7 linked regions of the Homo sapiens genome follow. The protein of the gene in region 5 purifies or fractionates together with the protein of the main gene of each other region. This does not show direct contact. Each region holds a gene or a part of one and is shown on either strand. Other genes may lie near its edges. The genes, in order: RPP38, USP34, POP1, RPP14, RPP21, OBI1 and NACC2.

Evidence for each region.
Region 1: the proteins of RPP21 (region 5) and RPP38 purify together in Homo sapiens (co-immunoprecipitation; 3 studies listed by BioGRID and IntAct, with this or other methods). This does not show direct contact.
Region 2: the proteins of RPP21 (region 5) and USP34 purify together in Homo sapiens (affinity purification with mass spectrometry; one large-scale study listed by BioGRID and IntAct). This does not show direct contact.
Region 3: the proteins of RPP21 (region 5) and POP1 purify together in Homo sapiens (co-immunoprecipitation; 3 studies listed by BioGRID and IntAct, with this or other methods). This does not show direct contact.
Region 4: the proteins of RPP21 (region 5) and RPP14 purify together in Homo sapiens (co-immunoprecipitation; 3 studies listed by BioGRID and IntAct, with this or other methods). This does not show direct contact.
Region 6: the proteins of RPP21 (region 5) and OBI1 purify together in Homo sapiens (affinity purification with mass spectrometry; one large-scale study listed by BioGRID and IntAct). This does not show direct contact.
Region 7: the proteins of RPP21 (region 5) and NACC2 purify together in Homo sapiens (affinity purification with mass spectrometry; one large-scale study listed by BioGRID and IntAct). This does not show direct contact.

What each region holds. Positions count from the first base shown.
Region 1 is NC_000010.11:15,096,041-15,100,154, forward strand, and holds the start of RPP38 (ribonuclease P protein subunit p38), read left to right. Parts: upstream 1-1,314; 5' UTR 1,315-1,726; exon of another isoform or gene 1,727-2,093; intron 2,094-4,114. UniProt on the Homo sapiens protein: Component of ribonuclease P, a ribonucleoprotein complex that generates mature tRNA molecules by cleaving their 5'-ends. Also a component of the MRP ribonuclease complex, which cleaves pre-rRNA sequences.
Region 2 is NC_000002.12:61,345,588-61,349,087, forward strand, and holds part of USP34 (ubiquitin carboxyl-terminal hydrolase 34), read right to left. Parts: intron 3,300-3,500; coding exon 3,169-3,299; intron 2,894-3,168; coding exon 2,283-2,893; intron 1-2,282. UniProt on the Homo sapiens protein: Ubiquitin hydrolase that can remove conjugated ubiquitin from AXIN1 and AXIN2, thereby acting as a regulator of Wnt signaling pathway.
Region 3 is NC_000008.11:98,134,293-98,137,792, forward strand, and holds part of POP1 (ribonucleases P/MRP protein subunit POP1), read left to right. Parts: intron 1-179; coding exon 180-367; intron 368-2,189; coding exon 2,190-2,446; intron 2,447-2,568; coding exon 2,569-2,662; intron 2,663-3,500. UniProt on the Homo sapiens protein: Component of ribonuclease P, a ribonucleoprotein complex that generates mature tRNA molecules by cleaving their 5'-ends. Also a component of the MRP ribonuclease complex, which cleaves pre-rRNA sequences.
Region 4 is NC_000003.12:58,304,822-58,309,044, reverse strand, and holds the start of RPP14 (ribonuclease P protein subunit p14), read right to left. Parts: upstream 2,801-4,223; 5' UTR 2,628-2,800; intron 2,526-2,627; exon of another isoform or gene 2,394-2,525; intron 1-2,393. UniProt on the Homo sapiens protein: Component of ribonuclease P, a ribonucleoprotein complex that generates mature tRNA molecules by cleaving their 5'-ends.
Region 5 is NC_000006.12:30,343,842-30,347,357, reverse strand, and holds RPP21 (ribonuclease P protein subunit p21), read right to left. Parts: upstream 2,203-3,516; 5' UTR 2,187-2,202; coding exon 2,130-2,186; intron 2,061-2,129; coding exon 1,960-2,060; intron 1,892-1,959; coding exon of another isoform or gene 1,868-1,891; coding exon 1,785-1,867; intron 927-1,784; coding exon 801-926; coding exon of another isoform or gene 794-800; intron 646-793; coding exon 548-645; 3' UTR 501-547; downstream 1-500. Other genes in the region: TRIM39-RPP21 protein, read right to left, coding at 548-645, 801-926, 1,785-1,867, 1,960-2,060. UniProt on the Homo sapiens protein: Component of ribonuclease P, a ribonucleoprotein complex that generates mature tRNA molecules by cleaving their 5'-ends.
Region 6 is NC_000013.11:78,656,356-78,660,504, forward strand, and holds the start of OBI1 (ORC ubiquitin ligase 1), read right to left. Parts: upstream 2,801-4,149; 5' UTR 2,766-2,800; coding exon 2,694-2,765; intron 1-2,693. UniProt on the Homo sapiens protein: E3 ubiquitin ligase essential for DNA replication origin activation during S phase.
Region 7 is NC_000009.12:136,092,490-136,096,489, forward strand, and holds the start of NACC2 (nucleus accumbens-associated protein 2), read right to left. Parts: upstream 2,801-4,000; 5' UTR 2,700-2,800; intron 1-2,699.

The sequences.
Region 1 (4,114 bases), on a different chromosome or scaffold from region 5:
CAGTAGCTCATGCCTGTAATCCCAGCACTTTGGAAGGCCGAGGTGGGCGGATCACCTGAGGTCAGGAGTTCGAGACCAGCCTGACTAACATGGTGAAACACCGTCTGTACTAAAAATACAAAAATTAGCTGGGCTGGTGGCCCGTGCCTGTAACCCCAGCTACTCCGGAGGCTGAGGCAGGAGAATCACCTGAACCTGTGAGGCGCTGGCTGGAGTGAGCCAGGTTCGCGCCATTGCACTCCAGCCTGGGCAACAAGGGCAAAACTCTGTCTCAACAACAATAATAATAATAAATAAAAGAAAGAAATCACAGAAACTATACCAGAAAATAGGATACAAAACCAACAGTGAGGAGATTGAGAAAAGGAGGCAGATACGTAAAGAGGAAAAGGAAGGGGGCCCAAGTAAGGCCGGAAAAAGCGGGGAGAAGGAGGAGGCTCATTAGGTCAGAAGCAACCTGCCGTCTTCTAAGTTCTGGCCAAGGGTAGATCAACAGATCCAGATTCCTGAGCTTTAAAATGTTATTCGGCCGCTTCATCACTTGTCCCCGACTTTGCAGCGACTCCGATGGTAGCCTGAGTCTCCATTGCTTGGAGCAGCCACAGTGGACACTGGACGGGATATTCTGTGCAGCTGTTGCTGAACTCAAGGCAACTCTTACTGCCTTTCTCTTTTCGGGCTCAAGATTCCCTGCATTATTGCCCATAGGCATGTGTTTTACCCCATACTCCTTCTCCCTTTTATCTTGATTTTCGCGGTGCTGGGGAGTCTGCAGGGATTCCATGGCGACGGGCTCACTGGGACAGGGGCTGGGGTTGTGCGTCCCTGAGGCAAGGCAAATACAGAAAAGCGAATAGAGACAGAGGGCTAAGATTCCAAAGCACTGAAAGGTAGAAACTGGGTTAGAAGAGAGAGGGGAGCACAAACGCCCGGAGAGAGCGAGCCCTCGGGATACCATTGGCTATAGGCTGGCCTCCGAACAACTGGACGGTCCAAGTCCTGAGCGTCTGGTTACCCGGGCAACCGCATGGTCTCGCGATACATACCTCGCGCCTGCGCACTGCCCCTGTAGCGGGGGTGGGGGGACCCGGTCCGGAGACTCCACCCCGGGGCCTAAACTCGAGTCTAAAAGATTGGGCCTCGTTGTGTCGTTTCCGGGTCGCGCGACGCTGTGGGCCGCTTTCCCCTCTCCGGAGTGACCTAACACAGGATAACGAAACCTGCACTGCTCCGAGCGCTTCCTCCCCGGCCCGTCGCGTCTGCGAGGCGAGGCCGGGAGGCGAGGGCTCTGCGCACGCGCGGCGCAGGCGCACTGGGCGCCGGTGCTGTTGCCTTCAGGTGACCACGGATTCGCCATCGTGAGTTCCAGGTGGGCGCGCGGGGCCCACGTAGGGCAGGAGGCCAGCCCCGGGGGGATCGGGCCCGGGACTCTGCGGAATCTGGAGGCCGAAGCCCGCGCGCACGCAGGGTCTCTGCTGCTTCCCCAACGCCTGTTGCGTGGCCGCAGGACCCGCCGCCCTCCCGGTTGGGCCGCCCAGTCCCGGGCCGGGCGCGTGCACCCAGAGCTTCCGCGTTTCTAGTCCGGCTCCTCTGCTGGATTGCAGCGCCGGCTGGGCACCAGGAGTACAAAGCGAAAACCCCCGCCGGCCCTTCTGTTCTCCACGGTCTCCAAGGAGACACGGACAACAGAACAACACTTCCGTGTGCTAAATAGTAAAGCACCAAGGTACTCGATCCAGGGGCGGCGTGCAGTGGGGAGGTGAGCTTTGGGTCGGCCGTCGCCCCTCGGCTACCGGCGGGATCCAGAAACCGGGAGTCACCACCAATACCGTTCTCAACTTTACTTCCAGCTGGTCACTACTGTGTCGGGAGATTCTACCTTCTTTTCCGACTAACATGTATTTTTCTCCAGTCCTTTCTGCGGCGTCTCTAGTGCAGGCCACCGTCATTTCTAACCTGGACGACTCCAGGAGCGTCTTTGCTGCTCGGGGACTCTTCCTTTGCCCAGATCCACAAAGATCTATAACGTCTTTCTAATCACGACACCTCTGCTTTAGATGTTAAAGTTGCTTCACACTGGAACGCTTGCAAAGGTCTTCATTATCTGGTCCTTACCCACCTTTCCTAGTTTCTCACCGCTTTCTCTAGCATCTCTGCCCCAGCCACATTGAACTTATTTGAACGTGTTTTTTTTTTTTTTTTTTTTTTTGAGACATAGCAGTCGCCCAGGCTGGAGTGCAGTGGCGCGATTCCGGCTCACTGCAACCTCCGCCTGCCGGGTTCAAGCGATTCTCCTGCCTCAGCCTCCCGAGTAGCTGGGACTACAGGCGCCTGCCACCACGCCCGGCTAATTTTCGTATTTTTAGTAGAGACGGGTCACCACGTTGGTCAGGCTAGTCTCGATCTACTGACCTCAAGTGATCCGCCCGCCTGGGCTTCCCAAAGTGCTGGGATTACAGGCGTGAGCCACCTCGCCAGCCAACTTATTTCTTTTAATACTGAGATACCTTTCTTTACTCCATACTTCCTTTGGTAGGCATTGTTTAGATGTAGGTTAAGAGGTCCGGCCCGGCGCGGTGGCTCACGCCTGTAGTCCCAGCACTTTGGGAGGCCGAGGCGGGCGGATCACAAAGTCAGGAGATCGAGACCATCCTGGCCAACATGGTGAAACCCCGTCTCTACTAAAAATACAAGAATTAGCCGGGCGTGATGGCCCGTGCCTGTAGTCCCAGCTACTCGGGAGTCTGAGGCAGGAGAATCGCTTGAACCCTGGAGGCGGAGGATGCAGTGAGCCGAGATTGTGCCACTGCACTTCAGCCTGGCGACAGAATGAGACTCCGTCTCAAAAAAAAAAAAAAAAAAAAAAGTTCCTCTGTGAGGACTGCCTTTTCCCACCCCCCTCAACTAAGCTAGGCCTCTGCTGGATGTTCCCTAAGCATACTGTTCCCTGACCTTCATGTGCATCAGGCTTTATTGTATAATTACTTGCTAATATTTTTTCCTCGTGGACTCTAAGCTCATGAGGTCTGTGAGAAAAAATACTTAATCTTTATGGCCTGGCACATCGTGGATAATCGATAAATATTTGTTGAAGAAAGGAAGGGGCCTGCGGCTGAGGGTGGGAGTGGTATTCCAGGCAGAGGGACTAATGTGTATAAAGACTTGCAGGTGGGAAAATGCTGGCCTCATTAAATAGTATGTTGTTCGGTGTTGAGGACTTGTGCTTGGTGGGGCCTAAGGAGAAAGAGGGCCTAAGTGGGAGATTGAGCTGGAGTGTGGAGGGCCTTTTATGTCACATTAGAGTTTAGGCGGGGCATGGTAGCTCATGCCCTCAATCCCAGTACTTTTGGGGAGGCCGAGGCTACGGGATTGCCTGAGCCTAGGAGTTGAAGACCAGCCCAGGCAACAAAGCAAGACCTTGTCTCTATAGAATTTCTTTTTTTTTTTTTTTTAAGACGGAGTCTTACTCCATTGCCCAGGCTGGAGCACAGTGGTGCAATTACGGCTCATTGCAGCCTCCGCCTTCTGGGTTCAAGCAATTCCCCTACCTCAGCCACCCACCTAAGTAGCTGGGATTACAGGTGTGCACCAGCACTCCTGGCTAATTTTTGTATTTTTAGTAGAGACTGGGTTTCACCATATTTGCCAGGCTGGTCTCGAACTCCTGACCTCAAGTGATCTGTCCAGCTTGTCCTCCCAAAGTGCTGGGATTACAGGTGTGAGCCACCGTGCCCAGCCTATACAGAAAATTTAAAAATTAAAAAAATTTTCTGGGCTTGGTGGTATGCGCCTATAATCCCAGCTATTCAGCATGAGGCTGAGGTGGGAGGATTGCTTGAACCCAGAAGTTCAAGGCTGCAGTGAGCCATGATCGAACGACTGCACTACTGCCAGGTGACAGGGCAAGACTGTCTAGTAAAAAGAGTTTGCCCTTGATCTACAGGCAGCAGAGGCCTCTTGAGACAGCTCTAAAGGGCCCTCAGCAAAGCCTATTTTTCTCTCTTTCTCTAAAGCTATAAAATCTTATCAGTCAGTACTTTGTTTCTGGATTATATTGCGTGAGATTATGCTTATCCAGACTACTTGGCTCTCTTTATCGCCCCAGCAGATTCTG
Region 2 (3,500 bases), on a different chromosome or scaffold from region 5:
GTTAGCCCAGGAAATCCTCACAATAAAACCATGAGATAGATACTATTGTGCCCATTTTATTTTTAGAGACAGAGTCTCATTCTATTGCCCAGGCTGAAGTGTAGTGGTGCAATCACCACTCACTGCAGTCTTGATCTCCTGGACTCAAGCGATCCTTCCACCTCAGCCTCCCAATTATCTAGAACTACAGGTGTGTGATACCATGCCTGGCTAGTGTTTTTAATATTTTTGTAGAGACAGGGCCCCACTAAGTTGCTCAGGCTGATCTCAAGCTCCTGGCCTCAAACGATCCTCCTGCCTTAGCCTCCAAAGCACTAGGATTATTGTTCCCATTTTATAGATTGAAAAAATGAAGAAAAATTAATTATTTTGCCCATCATAATACCACCACTAAGTGACAGAATCACATTATTTGGTATATTTCACAGATAACCAAAAAGTTTTATGCTGGAGCTTACCCTTTTAAATACCCTAAAATTAGATGTGTAAAATTTCCCTTTCTTAATCACAATTTAGGAAAGTTTCCATAAGCACTCATATCTTTTTTAGGCATTTATTACAAGATGTTGAAAATCTAATCCTGTGTTATCCAATATAATACCAACTAGCCATATGTGACCATTACACACATAAAACATGGTAGGTCTAGGCTGGGTATAAGTAGCTTACGCCTGTAATCCCAGAGCTTTGGGAGGCTGCGGCAAAAGCACTGAGGTCTGGGGTTCAAGACCAGCCTGGGCAACATAGCAATACTCTGTCTCTATAAAAAAAAAAAAAAAAAATTAAGAATTAGCTAGGAGTGGCAACACACACCTTAAGTCTCAAGTGCTCAGAAAGCTGAGGCAGGAGGATTGCTTGAGCCCAAGAGTTTGAGACTACGGTGAGCTATGATCACATCACTGCACTACAGCCTAGGTGACAAAGTGAGACCCTATCTCTTAAAAAAAAAAAAAAAAAAAAAAAAAAGGCCAGGTGCAGTGGCTCACGCCTGCAATCCTAGCACTTTGGCAGGCCGAATCATAAGGTCAGGAGTTCAAGACCAGCCTGGCCAATATGGTGAAACCCCATCCTACTAAAAATACAAAAATTAGCCAGGCATGGGTGGGGGGTGGGGGGCACCTGTAGTCCCAGCTGCTCAGTAGGCTGAAGCAGAAGAATCGCTTGAACCTGGGAGACGGAGGTTGCAGTGAGCCAAGATTGTGCCACTGCACTCCAGCCTGGGTGACAGAGTGAGATTCCAACTCAAAAAAAAAAAAAAAAAAAAAAAAGGCCGGGCCTGGTGGCTCACACCTGTGATCCCAGCACTTTGGGAGGCCGAGGCGGGCAGATCATCTGAGGTCAGGAGTTCAAGATCAGCCTGGTCAACACGGTGAAACCCCATCTCTACTAAAAATACTAAAAAAGTAGCCAGGCATGGTGGTGGGTGCTTGTAATTCCAGCTACTCAGGAGGCTGAGGCACAAGAATTGTTTGAGCCTGGGAAGTGGAGGTTGCAGTGAGCCTAGATCGTGCCACTGCACTCCGGCCTGGGCAACAGAGCGAGACCCTGTCTCAAAGAAAAAAAGAAGAAGAAAACAAATAAATCAATAAATATTTTAAAGAATTAAAGGGTGGCTGGTCTAAATTGAAAAGTGCTATAAGTATAAAATATGCACTAAATATTGAAGACTTGGTAAGAAAAAAAGGAAGGAAATACCTTAGTAATTTTTATACTTATTACATGTGTAAATGGCATTGTGGATATTATTGGTTTAACATGATTAAAATTAACAACCTGGTTTTTTATTGTTGTTGTTCAACGTTTTGCTTTTGAGTCTCACTCTGTTGCCCAGGATGGAGTGCAGTGGTGTGATCTCAGCTCACTGCAACCTCCACCTCCCAGGTTCAAGTGATTCTCCTGCCTCAGCCTCCCAAGTAGCTGGGATTACAGGCGTGCACCACCATGCCCGGCTAATTTTTCTATTTTTAGTAGAGATGGGGTTTCACCATGTTGTTCAGGCTGGTCTCAAACTCCTGACCTCAAGTGATCCACCTGCCTCGGCCTCCCAAAGTGCTGGGATTATAGGTGTGAGCCACTGTGCATGGCCAACAACCTGCTTCATTTTGTGTTTTTAAATGTGCCCAATAGAAAACTTGAAATTATCTATTTGTAGCTTACATTTATAGTTTGCACTATACTACTAATGAATAGCACTAATACAGAATAAATTGCAAATTGAATATAGGATATAATACTTCCCTAAAGGAAATATGAACTGAATATTTATTTTGAAGTAGGCTTACCCATCGTGGTGGTGGTGATGGTGGTGGTGGTGGTGGTGATGCTGTGGACCAATAAATTGTCGACAATTAAATAATTCATTCCCAATAGTCTCCCCAAGGAAGTCCCCAGTTCGTGTGATACAAGACTCCTGAGACCCTTGTGCTATATGAGTAGCATTCATTTCCCCTGAAATATCATGTTCTGGGTCTTCAGAGTGTGAACAAGCATCCAGCATTCGCATTCGATTATCTACTGATGGCAATGATTCAGTGTTAAAAACCAGGTCCTTTCCTGTTCCGCTGCTTGTCCCATTTCTTTCTGACATGCCTTGGGAGTCCCCCAGGCAAATGCCTGCTTGACTCTCTAACTTTCTATTCCGAAGATCTGTACCACAACTGCTTTTGGGAGGATTATGACCATGATCATCGTCTTCATCTTCCTCTTTGAGGGCTTCAATATCTGCAATGTCTTCTGACTGTACCTCACTGCCAGGGCTCCCAGCTGACTGGCTTGCGTGGCTAGAATTAACCTCATTGCTAGATCCATCACTATGCCCACTACTGCTACCAGGACCACTGCTTCCATCTTCACCACTGTTGGCAGTTTCGTCAGAACTTCCCTGCATGGATTCCTGTATTTTGAAACAAATAGATTTAAATAAATATTTAAACCAGTAAGAAAAAAGGTAACCAACATTAATAAACTGTACTTTTTAAAAAGGCTGCCAGTCTTGTTATACTCCTTTGAACAATACAAAATGGAATTAAAAACTCAAAGGATGTCAAAAATATTACGTAAAGGAGAGGACAAGCCCAAACATGAATTATGTATATATACCCAATTCAAATGATAAACACGCCAGAAAGCCAAAAATGCCTATAAAAGAAGAAAAACCTATTTTCATACCTCTGTGTCTGAAAGTCGTTGTTGCACATGTTTGGTTCTATTAATAAGTTGCTCATCCATTTCAATGTCACTACCTCCACTTTGATGTGTATCGCTATTATCACTGCTTTGAGGACTAGCTGCAGGTGACCCTATATAAAATACATTTTTTGTTTTTACTTCTAATTTATATTAACATTGACTTAACAGAATGACATTATCATTTGATTCCTTGACCTAGTTACCAAAGCTTTATGCTAAGTAGCCAAAAATAAAATCTCTAAATATGTTAACATTTGCTCATGATTTCTAAAGAAGATGTAAGATTCAATTAAAAGTCAAGATGTTTAAGA
Region 3 (3,500 bases), on a different chromosome or scaffold from region 5:
ACTCATTTAACACATATTTGTTGAGAACTTATTGTGTGCCAGGCTTTGATCTGAGCAATCCTCACAACCAAAACTTCACCTCTCATGGAGGCAGACAGTAAATGACAGTGTGGTTATCAGGAAATAGGACTGCAGTCTCAACACCCGGAATTATGGAATTTTGCTTTTGTTGATGTCAGGGCTGACGTTTGCAGCAGTTCACTGCTTGTCTGGAAAGCGCCAAGGGAGCCTTGTGCTTTATCGGGTGAATAAATATCCCAGAGAAATGCTTGGGCCTGTTACGTTTATCTGGAAGTCCCAGAGGACCCCGGGTGACCCTTCTGAGAGCAGGCAGCTGTGGATCTGGCTGCATCCAACCCTTAAACAGGTATAATCCTTCAGGTTATCTCCCGTCATTCTGAAACTGCATTTTTAATTACTGCTGGAAGTCAATACTGTAGAAATGTAAATAGTGTAAAGGTTTGTCTGATAGTCTGATATTTGTATATGGGGGGCTCTATGATTATTGAATGAAGTGAATTTTTAAAAAACTTTAAAAATTTGTATTTAAAAATGTCTAATTGACAAAAAGCAAATATATTCAAAGTATATAATATGATGATTTGATATACATGTTGTATACCACAATCAAATAACACATCCATCACCACCCATGCTGTACATTATATCCCCGGAACTTGTTTATCAAATATAATGAAGTCAGGGCGGGGCATGGTTTCTCATGCCTGTAATCCCACCACTTTGGGAGGCTGAAGCAGTTGGATCACTTGAATCCAAGAGTTTGAGACTAGGCTGGGCAACACGGTGAAACCCTGTCTCTGCAAAAAAGACAAAAATTAGCTAGGATTGGTGGCATGCACCTGTAGTCTCAGCTACTTGGGAGGCTGAGGCGGGAGGATCACTTTGAGCCCAGGAGGCAGAGTTGCAGTGAGATGAAATCGTGCTATTGCACTCCAGCCTGGGTGACAGTGAGACCCTGTCTCGAAAAAAAAAAAAACTAATCTTGACATCTCATATTTTTAGTAAGTCATAAGCAGAAGTAGAGATAAAAACCAGCCTTATGCTAATTATTTGAAATGTTGAATTTGAACTAATGTTTCTACCATGACTGAAGTGGTTCACTAGTATCTAGGGGCTATTTGATAATGAAAAGCTATTTTTGAGTAATTCTAATGATTTTTCACACTGAATTTAGCTTAGCTTCCCTTCTTTAGCATACTCACTACTTTAAAAAAATGTAGTCAGAGTGATCATGTTGTTTTCATAATATTTGACTAACCCTACCCCTAGCCCCAGCCCTAATTAACCCATTTGAAATTTTCAGTTTCAAAATTTTTTTTTGTTTAAAGTGGCATACACTACTCAGAACACCCAAAAAAGCTTTTTTTCAAAAATTAAAATTAAATTAAAAAAAATTTTTTTTTCCCAGAGGGTTTTGCTCTGTCATTGAGACTTGAGTGCAGTGGTGCAGTCATAGCCCACTGCAGCCTCTACTTCCCAGGCTCAAATGATCCTCCTACCTCAGCCTCCCCGAGTAGCTTAGACTACAGGGGTGCACCACCTTGTCCAGCTAATTATTTTTTTATTTTGTGTAGGAACAAGGTCTCCCTATGTTGCCCAGGCCATGGTCTCAAACTCCTGGGCTGAAGCCATCCTCCTGCCTCAGCTTCCCAAAGTGCTGAGATTACAGACGTGAGCCACCACACCTGGCCGAAAAAAGCTTTTTGATGATAAATTTAATTTAAGTTAATTTGTGAGGGAATACAAATGTGATTTTTTTTTATTTTTTATTTTTTATTTTTTTTTGAGACGGAGTCTTGCTCTGTTGCCCGGGCTGGAGTGCGATGGCACGATCTCAGCTCACTGCAACCTCTGCCTCCCAGGTTCAAGTGATTCTCCTGCCTTAGCCTCCTGAGTAGCTGAGATTATAGGTGCCTGCCACCCAACTATTTTTTGTATTTTTCAGTAGAGATGGAGTTTTGCCAGTTGGTCAGGCTGGGCTCGAACTCCTGATCTCAGGTAATCTACCCACCTCGGCCTCCCAAAGTGCTGGGATTACAGGTATGAGCCACCGTGCCTGGCCAAAAATGTTAATTTTTAAAGAGATTTAAAAAAAAAAACCCAACTAAATTTGTCGTAATATATTTAAATTTCAAGATTTTAAAGTGAATGTTTAAATATATTTTTAGGATATCTTAGAGGAAATAAAAGCAGCGTGCCAGTGTGTGGAACCCATCAAATCAGCTGTCTGCATCGCTGACCCACTTCCAACACCATCCCAAGAAAAAAGCCAAACTGAATTGCCTGACGAGAAAATTGGCAAGAAAAGAAAAAGGAAAGATGATGGAGAAAATGCTAAACCAATTAAAAAAATTATCGGTGATGGAACTAGAGATCCATGTCTACCATACTCTTGGATCTCTCCAACCACAGGCATTATAATCAGGTATGAGTTGAATTTGCTTTGAACCTACTGAACATTTTCAGTGAAGACCTGCTCCATTTTTGTCAGTGGCACAGATGTTGTGTGATGAAAGTTTCCATTTTAAGATGTTCTTTCTTTTTCAGCGATTTGACGATGGAGATGAACAGATTCCGGCTGATTGGGCCACTTTCCCACTCCATCCTAACTGAAGCAATAAAAGCTGCTTCTGTCCACACTGTAAGAGTAAAAGTGACTGTAGTGTTTTATTCTAATCATGTTTTTCCTGTCAAATTTGTGAAACCTAATATATAATTTGGTAACATTTTGGGCCATGGCTTTTAGATGTTTATTTCCCTACTTATTATGCTTATTATCAAAGATTTTGTTATCTTTCACTTCTCCTAGAAGACCACAACTAAGTGGATATGATCAGTAAACTGACTGTTCTTACTTAAATACAGACTGCTCTTGCATCTGTGAGTCTTGTAGAGGGTCTTAACTTCTGCTTCATAGGTAGGGAGTCTCTAAAATCCCTGAAATTGTGTGCCAGATTTTGTGATGTGTGCGTGTGCCATGTAGGTTTTCTTTTCTTTTTTTTTTTCTGAGATTGAGTCTCATCCTGTTGCCCAGGCTGGAATGCAGTGGTGCGATCTTGGTTCACTGCACCCTCTGCCTCCTGGGTTCAAGCGATTCTCCTGCCTCAGCCCCCCGAGTAGCTGAGACTATAGGTGCACACCACCAGGCCCAGCTAGTAGAGACAGGGTTTCACCATGTTGGACAGGCTGGTCTGGAACTCTTGACCTCAGGTGATCCGCCCACCTTGGCCTCCCAAAATGCTGGGATTACAGGCATGAGTCACCGCACCTGGCTGGTTTTCTGGGGCTAGTTTTAGGGGTCTAGAATCTCTAAAAAGGTTAAGAGCAGTATGTCTAGGGCAGCACTTCCAGTAGAGCTTTCTGTGAGGATGATGTTCCTTTGTGCTGTCCAGTACGACAGCCATTAGCCACATGTGGCAGTTGAATACTTGAATTGTGGCTAGAGTGACTGAGGAACTGAATTTATACCTTTACTTAAC
Region 4 (4,223 bases), on a different chromosome or scaffold from region 5:
CAGGGGTTGAGAAGAGGGATTCCTGGAAGGGGCACTCAATGCAGCTTCTAAAAGGTCTGAACTTTCAAGAACGTAGAACATGCTCATCTCTCTGTAGACAGTTCCTTTCCTTGGCTCCATGCCAACCTTGCTCTCCCTCTGGATAGGTCCTATTCATCCTTCAACTTTCAGTTTAAATACCACCTCTTCATGAAGGTCTTCTCTGACACCCTTCTCTAAGTTAAGCCCCCATGTTATGCAATCTCTTAACACTGTCTATTTGTTTAATATATGGATCCCCCACTACAGGGAACAGGAAACTGAGGCCCAATCAAGGAAAGGGACTTATCCAAGGTCACAGAGCTATGGACCAGCATTTCAAAACCACTCTGGGTTAGACCCAGTTCCAACCACTCCCAGATGATGACCTCTGGAGAAAAGAAGTCAGGGTCAAGGAGCTACATCTACCAATCCATTCAACAAACATTAATACTTTGGGGCCTGGCGTGGTGCTCATGCCTGTAATCTCAACAGTTTGGGAGGCCAGGAGTTTGAGACCAGCCTGGGAAACATAGTGAGACCCTGTCACTAAAAAAAAAAACAAAAAAACTTAAATTAACCAGGCATGGTAGTGTGTGCCTGTAGTCCCAGCTACTCCAGGGGCTGAGGTGGGAGGATAGCTTGAGTCTGGGAGGTTAAGGATACAGTGCACTGTGATTGTACCACTGCACTCCAGCCTGGGTGACAGAGCATGACCCTGTCTCCAAAACAAACAAACAAAAAATACTGTAATACTATGACACAAAGTAGGTATTCAAATGAGAGAAAAGTGATAGTGGTATAGGCCTATATATTCAAAAGAATCCTTGGTTTCAGGACAGCGGAAATAGTTACCTGATGCTTCTTTCCCAGTCACTAGAGTCTCCCCTAACTAGAAGGGCAGGGAGAACAAGAAACCTCATCTGTTTCTTTCATTGCTTGGCACATAAATGTTTTTTAGTGTTACTGCCTTGATGGAGCTGGCTGCCTAAAATAGGGGAGTGAAATTAGACCCAGGGCTTAGATGCCAGTAAAACGAAGACTTACACAACATTCACGAGATGGACAGTGGTGATGGCTGCACAGCGTTGTGAATGTACTCAATGCTACTTACGATAAATTTTATGTCACGTATTTTTTGCAATTAAAAAAAAAAAAAAAGACTTACAAATGACAGCACTGCCCTCTGCAGGCTGTTCTGACATTAAAGGAGAGGATACCTGGGAAATTATTTTGTACAGACTGGTATTAAATATATTCACCAGGCTCTCCACAGATGTGGGCTCACGAAGTTACTGTCATCGTCATCTTTAAAGTCAGTCTTGTTGTTTGTTTTGAGATGGAGTCTCACTCTGTCGCCCAGGCTGGAGTGCTTTGGGTCGAAGCAATTCTCGCTCCTCAGTCTCCTGAGTAGCTGGGATTACAGGCGTACGTCATCACGCCCAGCTAACTTTTGTATTTTTAGTACAAATGGGGTTTCGCCATGTTGGCCCAGGCTGGTCTCGAACTCCTGGCGTCAAGTGATCCGCCGACCTCGGCCCCCTCAAAGTGCTGGGATTACAGGCATGAGCCACCGCGCCCGGCCTAGAGTCAGCCTTTTTTAGTGGCTGCGCAGGGATGCTCCTAATCTGACCTATTAGTAATAAATCTGATTCTCCCTACTCCCCCGCTTCTCCATCCCTACGGCGGCCAGTGAGTCTATTAACATCTACTCAAGCTACATCATTCCTCTGCTCAAAATCTTGCTATGGTTCCCGTTTTATCCAGAGTAAGGCCAAAGTCCTTAGAGCAGCCTGCAAGGCTCTGCCTCACCTGCAGGACTGCTCCCTCTACACCTCTGACTTCATGTCCTGCCATTCTCCCTCCGCTCAATCCCCGCCACCACACAGGCCTAGCCTAGCTCTTTCTCACGCGCCAGTCTCGCTCCCACCGCTGGGCCTCGGCTCTAGCTTTTCCCCATGCTGGGAAAGATCTTCCTCCAGGCAGCCACCGGACTCACACCCTTGCCCCCTTCCTGGCTTAGCTCAAATCTCAATCGGGTTGGCCCAGTGCCCTTCTCGGCTAACACCGCACCCCACCCCCATGCCCCGTCCCTGCTTTCTTCTTCGTAGCATTTGCCTTTTTCTATGACAATTATGTAACTCGTTTATCTTTATCTGTACTTCCCCTCCCCACCCCAACAAAAGTCCACTCCAAGAATCTTGCTATCTTGTTCACTGCTGTTTCCCAAGGCCCTAAAACACTGGGTCGTGCACAGTGGGCGTGCGACGTACAATTTTTGGACTAAATCAATCACTTTAAAAAGCTCAATATCCTTACTGCTGAGCACTTGGGTGGCTTTCAATATTTTTCAACAACCACTATTTAGCGCTCACCTCGCGCCGGGCGCATGGAGAGCGCTCAGGACACGGTCCCGAAGTCTCGCCCGGGCCTCTCGGCCACGTTCTGCGGCCGAGACCCTACGCGGCGCCGTACAGAGGCCCTCAGCGCCCGGGGTCGGAGAGGACAAGCTACCCAAGGCGCACCGCCCGCCCCGCGCATGCGCCCGGGTCGCGGCCAACTGAGACGGCTCCCAGACAACCGCCGCTCTTTGGAAGGCTTCCACCTACCCACTCTTCGTCGGACTAGCCTGACGCCTGACCAGACTCCTATTCGCCGCAAGGACCCGCCAAGGCTTGGGGCTCCCCGGCAGCAGCCACAGCTGGGCCCGAGAAACTCCTGGTGTCTTTACGTTTGGCTTCTCCTCGTCCCGCCCCACGAAGCGTGACGCCCAGGCGGATATGACGTCACCACGCGGCGTCGTCCTAAGGACCCAGGCGCGAATCCTGATCCGGAGCTGAGAGCGGCCGAGCTCAGCGCCCTCTGGTGTCCACTCCGGGAAAGCCGTGTGTGCAATTTGCTTGGGGTGCGGTTTAGGGCGGGTTTTTTCCGCCTTGGACGGTGCTTCATAGTTATCCATTTCTTCATGCATTCATTCATTCATTCAACAATTTTTTCGTTGTTTTTTTGAGACAGTTTCACTCTGTCGCCCAGGCTGGAGTGCACTGGCGCGATCTGGCTTACTGCTACCTCCGCCTCCAGGGCTCAAGCGATTCTCCCACCTCAGCCTCCTGAGTAGCTAGGACTACAGGTATGCTCCACCATGCCTGGCTAATTTTTGTATTTTTAGTAGAGACGGGGTTTCACCATGTTGGCCAGGCTGGTCTCGAACTCCTCGCCTCAAGTGATCTGCCCACCTTGGCCTCCCAAAGTGCTGGGATTACAGACGTGAGCAACTGCGCCCGAGTCATTCTACACATTTTTTTCATTATATTATAATTTATTTATTGAGATGGAGTCTCGCTCTGTCGCCCAGGCTGGAGTGCAGTGGCGCCATCTTGGCTCACTGCACCCTCCGCCTCCCTTCAAGTGATTCTTCTGCCTCAGCCTCCCAAGTAGCTGGGACTACAGGCATGCACCACCATGCCCAGCTAATTTTTGTATTTTTAGTCGAGACGAGGTTTCACCATGTTGGCCAGCATGGTCTCAATCTCTTGACCTCGTGATCTGTCCACCTCGGCCTCCCAAAGTGTTGGGATTACAGGCGTGAGCCACCGCGCCTGGCCTAATTTTTGTATTTTTAGTAGAGACAGGGTTTCACTATGTTAGCCAAGCAGGTCTCAAACTCCTGACTTCAGGCAATCCACCCACCTCGCCTCCCAAAGTGTTGGGATTACAGACGTGAGCCACCGCGCCCAGCCTACAAAATTATATCTAGCATCTCCTCTCCTCAAGATCTCCTATGTCAAGCACTCCCCAAAGATAGGACCCACTCTCAGTGTCCCTTGTGACTCCCAGCACATAGTAGGTGTTCTATCTAGGCCGTCCTGGAAAGACCCACAAAGTAAAGACTTACTTTGTGCTAGGCACTATGCAAAATATTTTACATATGTCATCTCATGGAACCCTCACACAATCCTGAGATGGCTATTACTATGATCATCACCATTTTAGAGGTAGAAACTGAGGCACAGGCCAGGCGCAGTGGCTCATGCCTGTAATTCCAGCACTTTGGGAGGCTGAGGCGGGCAGATCACTTGAGGCCAGGAATTCGAGACCAGCCTGGCCAGCATGGTGAGACCCCCATCTCTACTGAAAATACAAAAATTAGCTGGGCACGGTGGTGCACACCTGTAATCCCAGTTACTCGGGAGGCTGAAGCAGGA
Region 5 (3,516 bases):
AGTTGTTTATTCTTAAGAAAACTCTGAGAGTTTACCTATGGGACATAATTGCAAAATGTCTGTCGGTGTCCTTTGTTAGCATCTTTGACTTTGTTAGTTCAGGTTTGCGCCATTTCCTTTATCAGAATTTTATTAAAGACAACTTTGAGACTGGGAAAAGACCTGAGTCTTTTCTGACTATGAGTGGGCCTAGAGGATACAAACACTCTCCGCTGCCCCATATTTCTCCCCTTGTTTAAAAACAGCAGCAGTGGCATCATTCTCTCCAGCTCTTCAGTCAGCAATTATGGCTGCCCAAACATGGAATGCCCTAAGGTGGCTCAGGACATTGATAGGGAACTGGGGCCATGGCCTTGGAAATGCAAGCTGCTGAGTGAGGCCAAGTGGTCTATGGAAATCACGATCTCCCTGCATGGTGGGATTACAAAGGTGACCAAGAAACACAGACAGAAACAGAAGAAAATGGAATTAAGAGTTGAAATACCCACAGAACAGAATCATGGAATGTAAAACAAGTAAACTTTATTTGGGAGATGGGGTGAATCCATCACTGGTTACTGGAACCCTGAGTCTGCATTTTCTCCTCAGGAAGGCGGTCTGAAATGGAGTGGGCTGTGTTTGGCAAGGGTTGTAGTGGTTTGGAATCTGAGTAAATGAGCAGAATCAGAGAAACAGAATTAGTTTTCTGACTGTGGTACTTCTCACACCAACCCAGAACCTGTCCATGTGTCCTCTTCACTCTACGTTCTCCATTGTCCCTATCCTCTGGGGTGTCCTCCATTTTCTCCCTCACCTCTCACCTGCTTGGCTCCCGAGCTGGGCCTCAGGCCTGTCTCCCCAGAGTAAATGCCCGGGATCATTGAGGAAGCGTTGGCTGCGCTGGCATGTTAGGCAGGTCTGTACGGTCCAGCGCTGTCCCCTGCAGCCTAGGGTGAACATGGGAAAAAGACTGTCCACGTTTAGAAGTAACGGTCTCTTGCTGCCAGTTTTGCCTCCAGTGTTTTTCAGTAGGTATCCCCGCTCCCCCACCACACCCCCAATTTGAATGCACATTTGATGGTGTCAGGCCTCGGCATAAGCTCCATCGATTTCCTGGAACTCTTTAAGATAAAGTTCAAACTCCCTAACAAGACTTCAAGAACTGGCCTGTTTCCCCCTCCAGTCTCATGTTTTGCCCTCCTACCTCAAACTCCAGCCTCCTGAACTCTCATTTCTTTGACAGCACCACAAGCTCTCTTGTCTCAGAGTCTGCACACATGCCTAGAATTTCCATCTCTCACTCCCTTTGCTTATCATAAACTTCGCCACCACTGGCATGAGTAAGTGAGCATTCTACTCCCCCAGTTAATCTTTTTCTACACCATTTTGTTTCTTAGTCTGTCCCATCAGACCGTAATTTCAATGAGAATAATGAATCTAGCACAGTACCTGACACATTTTAGAAAATAAGTATTTGCTTAATAAATGAATGGTGATGGGAATCGTCCTCCACAAAGCCGAACAACATCTATTATTGTGCATGGGTGGGGTTGCCTCTTAAAAGTTATTATTTATTGCCCACACTGGAAGAAAAAAAAAAAAAACAGCCGAGCCCAAACCCTAGTTTGTGCAAGTGGCGTTAGGAACTTAATCCAAACCCGAAGAAGGAAGACTCCTGCGAATCCCACACCCAACATCCATCTACAGTGAGAAAGGCGCTGTTGGCCTCCAGTGCCCGCCCCCCACCCCGCCCCCCTCCGCGCCCCCAATGCTCCGCAGTCTTCCACCTCCGTTGGAGCACTCACGTCTCTGGCGCTGGGTGCAGGTGAGGCCCGGGACGAGGAGGGAAGAGCAGCCTCGACAGAGAGTCCTCTTCACCGAGGGATCCCTGGGGGCGGAGGAGGATAGTGGTCTGGCGCCCGCGCTCCCTCTCGCGTTCCTCCCGCGTCCCGCCCGCCGCCCGCCCCGTGGCTGTCTCACCGCCGCAAGACGAGCCGCTTCGCAATGGTCCTCTCAGTGTAGCAGTAAAACCTCGCCAGCGCCTGGTTCTCGGGGTCCTGGGCAAGGACACAATGGGCGGCCTGCGGGAGGGGAGCAGTCACTCTGGGACGCCGAGCACCGTCCCCGTGGGGCCCTTGTCGCAGACTCACCTGGTACAGGAAGTTGAGCCTCTGGAAGGCCTCGCGGTCCTTCACCGGCCCCGCCATCACCGCCGCGCTCCAGGGCCTCCCGCAGCCCCACCCCTCGCACAGCCCCGCCCGGGCGTCCGCGCGAGGCCTCCTGGGAAACGTAGTCCCCGCGCCCTCGGGAGCCTCCCGGAGGCCTCACAAACTCATCGGTTTCTAAACACAACCCCAGCAATCCATGCCCAGGGTCCCTTTATGAATTTTCAGTGCTTTTGTCTTCCTCAAGCTCATGACCAATTATATCACCTAGAGACCTAGTGGAGCAGGTGAGGATCTTAAATCGGCCATTTTCAGGACAGAAGGCTGGTCTCTTTATGTAGCTACGTTGGGGAGATGGTTATGTGCAATTTATACCCAGCTAGAGCTTCTGCCCTACTCTCCTGAGGTCCGAGGCAGATGCCTGTAAGATCTACAGACGGAAGGCACAGAGGTAATACATTAAAAAAAAGCACTGGTGCCAGTGGGGGTGAAAGTGGGAAGGATCATGAGGGTGCTGGAGGGAGGGAAAAGGACTCCCGGTCCTCAGAAAGCACAGTTTACTCCTACTATTCCACCTACCAAAGAAACACACTTCCTGTTATGCAGTGCTGGACACACAGTAGGTGATCCTCACTTTCTGAGTGAATGGTTTCTAACTCCTAGGCTTAGGTACAGCACAGAAATCTGTCAACAGCATCCCCTGCCCCTGAAACTTCACCCCACTCCCCACACTGACATTCACCTCACACCCCTCCCTCTGACCTCTTCTATCTTCCAGTTCTTCTGTCTGGTGTCCTGTGACTCATAGTGACTATCAGTTACTGAAGTCAGAAGCAGAGGGACATGAATTGGAGGGGTAGAAGATCAATGAACCCTGAGATGGGGAGGGCAGCATAAGTCAGGAGAGGATGACTTCTCTCCAATTTCAGACCCAGTGCCAGGCGGGGACAGACAAGCAGGGCTCCAGCTGGGAGGAAGGACATGGCTGAAACCTCCTCTGGAACTAGTTTCACAAGGGTTTTCGGACTCAAATGAGAGTGGTGTGTTTAAAATGTAGATGTAGGCTGGGCACGGTGGCTCACACCTGTAATCCTAGCACTTTGAGTGGCTGAGGCAGGTAGATTACTTGAGTTCAGGAGTTCGAGACCAGCCTGTCCAACATGGCAAAACCCTGTCTCCACTAAAATTAGCCGGGTGTGGTGGTGCATGGCTATAGTCCATAGTAATCCCAGCTACTCTGGAGGCTGAGGCAGGAGAATTGCTTGAACCTGGGAGGCGGAGGTTGCAGTGAGCTGAGATCACCACTGTACTCCAGCCTGGGCGACAGAACGAGACTCTGTCTCATAAATAAAATGTAGATGTCCGGCCCACC
Region 6 (4,149 bases), on a different chromosome or scaffold from region 5:
GGCAGATCACCTAGTTCGGGAGTTCAAGACCAGCCTGACCAACATGGAGAAACCCCGTCTCTACCAAAAATACAAAATTTGCCGGGCGTGGTGGCGCATGCCTGTAATCCCAGCTACTCAGGAGGCTGAGGCAGGAGAATTGCTTGAACCCGGGAGGCGGAGGTTGCGGTGAGCCGAGATCGCGCCATTGCTCTCCAGCCCGGGCAACAAGAGCGAAACTCCGTCTCAGAAAAAAAGAAAAAAAAAAGAAAAAAAGTTAAGTAACTTGTAAAAGGTTGTATGAGTGGTAAGTGGTAGATTAGATTAGAACCCGGCTAGCCTGAATGTAGAACTCAGGCCCTCAGTCACATATCCTTTCTGCTTCCATGGTACCTGGGGGGGGGGGGGGAGGAGCCTGTTTAAAAATCCTTAATTAATTAATTTTCTTTTATTTTTAATTTTTTTTTTTTTTTTTTTTTTGAGACAAAGTCTCACTCTTGTTGCCCAGGCTGGAGTGCAATGGCGCGATCTCAGCTCACTACAACCTCCGCCTCCCAGGTTCAAGCAATTCTCCTGCCTCAACTGGGATTACAGGCGCCTGCCACCACACCCAGCAAATTTTGTATTTTTAGTAGCGATGGGGTTTCACCATATTGGCCATGCTGGTCTCAAACTCCTGACCTCAGGCGATCTGCCCGCCTCGGCCTCCCAAAGTGCTGGGATTACAGGCGTGAGCCACCGCGCCTGGCTTAACCTTTTTGAGCCTGTTTCCTTATCTGTAACAGTAGAAATATGGTAATAACATCAACTCCCCATCCTTTCTGTTTTCAGAAGATTAAATGAAGCATGTGCAAAGTTTAGCATAAAGTCTGGCACATAAGATTAAGACAAAAGTCTTAATCTTTTTATTTTTATTATCTGATTTTTATTTCAGAATAAAGTTAACCAATACAGGAAAAAAAAAACACTAAAAATGCCTGATGTCATGGATGAACTTAGGTGAGGGTTTTACGAAGTAATCTGAAGACAAATGGTAATAATGATAGAGGTTCAACTATGAAGACTCAAAGTCTTAGTATTCTGAAGACACAAATGATAGTATAGAGGTTCAACCACAGACTCTAAGCTTTAATATTCTTATTTTAAAAATGGAAAAACCAGCCCTATCTTAAAGCATTGGTGTGAAGAGTAAACAAAATAATATATGCATACAAAAGCACTCTGTAGTCTGCAAATCACTATATTCTATGAGGTATCACTCTCGTTAAATACAAAAAGTATAGGTTTGGTAAATCAAACAGAACACTGTCAATACAATTGCAAAAGACAGCCTATAACTAATGGAAACTATATATAATGTGTACAAAATACTTCCCAAGAATATTTTTATCAGCCTTTAAAGCCAGTGTTGGAGGAAATTAACTCAGAATTTAACACATATTTCCAGGAACTTTATGTCAGGAGCCAAATGTAGACTGTGGCAAATAGAAACATCGCTTCTTCCCTCCCCCTAGCCGTGCAGGCAGTAAGTAATAGCTCAATGCCAGCTCAAACACCATCCTCGATGAGGCCATCCTTGATCTCTCCAAATTGATCAAGCCATCCCCAATCCATGATCTCCCAGCACATTTGCTATTTCATTGGCATTTCATTCTGACTGCTATCCAGAATTATCAGTTGCTTCCAATGCTGACTTTCTTCTACTTTTTGAATCCAGTAAATTCACACAGAACTTCAAACACCCCAGGCAGATCGTATTGGCCGGCACTCAAATGCTTGCTCTAGAAGTTTGTATTTCTCAAATCTGAGTCTACGGCTCAGTCTGCGCTGGGGGGTAAACACACACCCTGACACACCACAGACGTAAAAATAATTCAGGGTGGAAAAAAGTTGGTGGTTTATCTTTCCCCTTCTTTATCTATTCGGTAAAGAAATGCTCTTTAAAACACCGAAAGTGAGGCACAAATGGAAATGAAAGAGGAGAGGAATGCATTAGAATATTCAAAGCTCCGTTTCTAATTCAGAACCACTTTCCCTACCTTGTTTCACAAACACACTAGGCACCTCTTGCATCACAAAGAGAGAGTATTCTATCTCCTGACTGACCCATTCTTGGAGTTAAAAGCCACACCTCTTATTCTAATACCCTCCAGGAGCACTTACTATTTACTTTTCAAATTAGGAATTCAGAGCAAAGGTCATCCTCAAGGCCAGGATAAAGGCAAAAGGTCTTGGAAATGGAAAAGACTCAATACACAGCACCGTAGGCCCCAGAGGATGAACACTAGTTACAGAGGACTAAGAAGCCCGAGGTGAGGCTCCCAGGAAATGTGTTTTAATGGGCTTCACTACACGCCACGCGAGGCTGCAGAGGGAAGTTAAATATCCCTGCGATGCGTTTCTGATGGGGCCTCCTTCGAGGCCGGTGTCTTGCCAGTGTGAGGCCGCGGGCGGTGGCAGGGCCGTCTCGCCGCCCTCCCGGCAGACCACGGGCCGCTGTCACCCTCCTCCGAAAGGCGCCCAGATGAATCCATTAATCACGGTGCGCTACCCCCATCTCCCAGGACGCGGCCTCCCATCAAGAACGCGGGTTAGCGTTTTCTCCCATCTCCGCGCCTCACGCCCCTTCCCCGCCCCCGCACGAGACGGCCCTCGGCCCCGGCGAGCGACTTATCCAACCCCGTTTTGTAGCTGTGCCCACAATCACCCATTACCTTCCCCAAGCAAATGTGGCACGTGATGGGCAGAGTGAGCGACAATGTAACATTCTGCACGGTCTGAGCCATGGCAGCGTTCAGAATCCCGCCAACACGGAAGTCCCGCCGACCTACCGCTACTCTTCGCCAAGACTGGGCACGCGCGGGCCGGCTACGGCGCCCCGGTAGGGCCATAACCCGCCCAGGAGAGAAAACGAAAACGCGCTTTCGAAACGCGCGATCTCCAAGGCGTTTTCCTTTCATTAAAAAAAAAAAAAAAAAAAAGAAAGAAAGAAAGAAAGAAAGAAAATTCACTGATTAGGGAGCTGCAAGATTCCTGCGAATGTGTAGGAAGGTAGTTTACTACAAGTATCGAGGATCTTGGAAAATCTAAAGGAAAGCGGAATAGTGGAGACAGAAGAGGAAGATACGGAAAGGCGATTTTTTAAATCCCCAAATTGTTTTCGGGGATTGGATGGGGTGAAGGATGGAGAGTTTTTCGCCTAATTATTAAACCCCACACATCCGCCAACACAGCGTAATCAAAACATAGAGAAAAGACATTATCTACACGTTTCAATTTTTTTCAAAACAGCTTTCCACCTCTGTCAGTTCTCTTTCCACTCAATATAATGTGCTTCCAGAGGGCACAATAATTCACTTAAGAAAACAGTGATTGTCTCCTTATCTGTGTCCGAGACGATCCTGATACATTTAATCGCAGCTTTCCCTGAAAATACATTTTTACTGTGGGCTTCTCTGGGTTTTCCACCAAAAGGAGATTAACGTTTTCACGTCTTCATTTCAGGTGCATGGTTGCATATGAAATGTACCGCTGTGTTGTTGAACCCCAAGGGAGAATTTGTGAGGTTATAAGTTGCGTTTCCTACCAACAAAAAAGAAAAAAACCTAAAAGTTCCTAAATTTATCTTAAATGCAGTATAACAAATTTGGAATTTATCTGCAACTTACTTGAAGCGAGGAAGAGCTGATGTGATAAATTACGCTAACAAGTAAAATCTGTGAGTTGAGAGATTTAAAGACAAGACCATCGGGACAACTTTTACTAATCTTTGTGAAAAAGACGCAGTATGACTTCAAGAAGCAGCCTCATGGTTAAGAGAAAGGGGTTCTGGACCTGGGCTGCTTCAGCGGAAATCCCTGCCCCCAACAACTTCCTACCTAAACGGTAGCTCCATGGCTTCTGGCAACTTTTGTTTTGTTTTTTGAGATAGGGTCTAGCTCTGTCACCACTAGGTGCCAACACAGCGACCTCCCAGGCTCAAGCGATCCCATCCGCCTGCCTCAGCCAGCCTCCCGAGTAGCTGGGATTACAGTCATGCGCCACCATGCTTGGCTAATTTTTGTATTTTTAGTAAAGACGGAGTTTCACCCTGTTGGTCAGGCTGGTCTCCAACTCCTGACCTCAAGTGATCCGCCTGCCTCGAGGGTCGGGGAGTGGTTTCCCCATGTT
Region 7 (4,000 bases), on a different chromosome or scaffold from region 5:
CGGCCTCACACCACAGGGCTTTGCTTCTCCTTCGAGCCACGCCTGGAAGCCCAGCCCCAGGTTTCCTCAGCCCAGGCCAGAAATGTCACCCTGAAGTGGAAGGTGGCCTACCTTGTCCTCAGAACCACAATGGGAGGCTGGTCAGCCTGGGCCACTGAGGCAGGGACATGTGCTACCAAGGTGAAGGTGGACTGGGCCGGAGGAGCAGCAGAGTCAGGGGGCCCCATAGTCAAGTTCCCAAATGTGTTCGTTACACTGGGGTCTGTAGAAGGCCTTGGTTCTCCGGAGAAACATGCTGGTGTATCCTGGGGTAAGGGGTGCCACCTGCTGCCCCCCTGTGGACTCCGACCCTCATCCCACCGGCCACAGTCCAACTGGATCTCGGAACCCACTGCGTGACCCTGCAAAGGGGATGGAGTGACCCCAAGGGGCTGTGAGATGCAGAGAGGCAGCCTGGGGACAGTGTGTGGAGGTGGCTAGAACAGGGCTGGCTGAGGAAGGAACATGGGCTCTGCCCCACTGACGGTGGCTGGGGCCACTGGGCACTCGGTGCCCTGTGCGTTCCAGGGACACAGGTCAGAGGCACAGACCTCAGAGGAAGGGGCACAAGGTGGAACCTTGGGAACTCAACATCCCGAAAAGGACAACACCTTGGTTCCCCATTCCATCCCTCGGGCCTGGGAGACCACACTGCCCACAAACCAGGAAAGCAGGACTCCGGAGGCAGAGGCCAAGAGGAGTGCAGGCCTGGAAGAACCGCTCAGCACCAAGATCGTCACTGTTGTTTCATGAATAATGCAGCCTCATGCTTTAATTGGAAAACAAAGGGAGGATTGAAGAATTTTTTAAAAGTCACCACTAGCCCCCTGCCCAGGGCAGAGCAGCCCTGCGAACCCTTCCAGCAGCCGGTGGTAAAGAACAGAGCCTGTTCTCGCAGCCTGTAGCAGCCCAGCTCCCACTGCTCCCAGCAGGAGATCTCCCGGGTGGCTCCTCCCCGCCTTCCCGCCAGGCCAGGGCCAGCACCATCGAGCCCTGGGTGTGACCACTGCGAAAGGATCCCTGGCCACTAAGAAGTGACAAGTGATATCTTGTTCCACTCTCTGTGCCCATTCCAAGTGGCTTTGCCGAAAGGACAGGGGGCCACCACCTTGGGTGGCAGCTCCTTTTATTTCCTCCCCTTGGACTCTGGCCCAGCTACCACCCAACAGTGACCCCAGGGGAAAACGCCAAGAGGCCTCTTTAAGGGAGGGGCTGGGAAAGGCCCCACAGAGGACCAGAGGGGTGCTCCAACGGTGGCCGGGAGAAGAAGGGGTGGGTGGCTGAGAGGTGGCGGGTGGGGCGGGGGCTGCCTGAACCCTGACCTAACTCTAGGCGCCCCTGCTGGGGGGTGCTACAGGCTAAAACACCCTGCAGAATGCTGAGCTGAGTGTCCCACTGGAGAACAGGAGGGAAGGAGGTCAGGAGCCTGCCAGACGAAAAGAGGGGTGGGTGAGAAGAAGGGGCGACCTGGAGGGACACGGACTCTGGCAGGAGAGTGCGGCCGCGCTGGCGGGCGGGAACACCAAGGTGCACGCGCTCCCGGAGGCAGCTCCACGGGATGGGAGTCCGGGCTGCCTTGGGCACCCCCGGGTCAGCACCCCCGCCACACACAGGAAGGAACGCGCAGCAGAGAACACAGCTCAGGGCACCCAGCGGCCCAGGGAGACGGGCCCACCAGCACGTGGGTGAAACACCTCCAATCCGGAGGCCCCGCGCGGGGGTTGGGGGAGGGAGTGGAACGGCCTGGGAGGCCAACTCCAGGGACCCGGCCTCGCGGCCTTCAGACCCACAGGTTTAAGCGGCTCCACGACGAGAGTCCAAGACCAAACTTCCCCCAGAGCCTGGCAGAGGGGCTGGGAGGTGACCTCTGACCTCCGACCCCACACGATCCCAGCAAGAGAAGCAGGAAACTCCGTCGGAAGGCCTCGGTCCGCCCTGGCCGTGCGGGGTGCGCGGCGGGCCCCGGGCTCCGCTGAGTTTCTTAGAGAAGGAGCTGGGGCCCCCCGACCTCAGCTCCGCAGAGGCACAGAAGCTGGCAAGAGGCAGAGCCCCCTCCCCCTGCGGCCGGACCCCAGTTTCTCCCCAGGCTGGGGCCCGAGTGGGGGAGGCGCGGGAGGCGGTGACGACCCACGAACGGGCCCACCTGGACCGGGAGGGCGAGGCGCGGGCCCGGCTGGGCCAGGCAGCTGCGCAGATGCGCCGGGAGGGGTGGGTACCTCCGCCCTGGCCCCGGGCCAGTCCTGCCCCGGCTTCCCCACCCGGAGGGCTGGATCGGCCAGTCGGGTCCCTGGGGAGGCCGCGCGGGTCCCCAGAAATCCAGGGAAACCCAGCAGGCGGCGGGGAGCGCCCCGGGACGCCCGGAGCCGGGGTCTCCCCGAACGCGCGGCGCGGCGTCCCGGCCCGGGGTCGCGGGCGCCTCCGCCGGGACCCCCCGGCCCCGCCCGGCCCCCCTCCGCGGGCTCCCGAGGCCGGTTCCCGCGCGCACGCCCGGGCCGGCGCGGAACTCGGCCGCACCCGCCCCGCGCGGCCGGCACTGCGGCAGGGGGCTCGCGCCAAGTTGGGCGGCCGCGGAGTTTGCGGGAAGTGCGGGCCCGGCCCGTGGGACGACCCCGCCCGGCGGCGTAACCCGGGGGCGGCCGCGCGCGCCAAGTTGGCGGTACCTGCGGGCGCCCGGCCCGGTCCGGCCTGGGCAGCTGCGGCGCGCCGCCCGCGGCAGGAAGTGCTTGGCGTCCCGGCGCTCCGGCTCCCATGGACTTTCTCCGACCTCGCCCAGCACCGGCGGCCGCACCGCGGCGGGGGCGGGGCGGCGGCGGGGGAGGTGCCCGCGGGCCGTTAAAGGGACAGCGCGCCGGCCGCGCGCGCGCGCGCACTGGCAGCCAGGTGGGCTCCCGGGGTCGGGGCTGGGGTCCGGGGGCCGGGAGGGTCCCCAGTGGGGGCCGGCGGGGCGTGGGGAACCCCGAGCGCTGGGGAGGGGAGGCGGCAGCTCCTCGCCCCTCGCGCGTCCTCCTTCCGGAGCTGCCGGCGGTCGACCCTGCGCGGGACACCCGGCGGGAGCCGGACGCCGCGGCGCAGAGGACGGAGCTCGGCGGCCGGGTCGGGAAAGGACCTGGAGCGCCGCCCTCCGCCCTCCCCGGGCCCCGGCCTCGGCCGGACTCGCTAAGCCCGGGAGAGCCCCCGGGCCCCCCTACCCCGCCCCCGGCGCGCGCCCTGCCCGCGGCAGTCGCGTCCGCACGGTGCAGCCTCCGGGATCCGGGCGGGGGAAGTGCGCGCATCCGCAGCCGCCCTGGACGCTCAGGCGGGCCGTGAAAGACGAGGATACGGGAGCGCCCTTGGGCGAACGTCTGCGGGGCTCCGGCGCCCGTCCCTGCGGCCCGGGAACTGCAAGCTGCCTGGACTGGGCCTGGCGCTGCCTTCAGGCCTGGTGTGATCCGGGCGCACTGGGGCGTTGACAGTCATTCCGGCACCGGCCACGCAGCTCTCCATCTGCCCAAGGCCACGCTCCTGAGGACAGAGGTGCAGTTTTAAAACAAGGGCACGGAAATAAAACGGCCACACACCCGGAAAGACCCAGAGACCCCTCCTCAGCTGCCCCCTAACCTGGGGCCTGAGGTCAGGACAGGCTGCAGTGGTCCTCAGAGGCTAAGCCAGCCTCACTCCCACAGCACGCTCAAGGGTCCTTGCAGGAGAATGGAGTGATACCGCCTCAGTGGTCCCGAGCGAGGGCGCTGGGAGAAGGGTTGAGAAGGAGATGGCCACCAGCATCCCAGAGAACGCCTTTGGGGCTCTGGGGATCAGAAACCTGGGGCTACAGCCCTTCTGGCACAGTCAGCCAAGGTCATTCCCTGGACAAATCATCAGAAGCTTGGCCAGGTTCTTGTCACCCCAACCTCAAGCTAGGCCCTTGATCTTGGCCACAGACTGGCCCTTGACCCCAACTTTAGGTTCTATTCAGCTCTGCGTC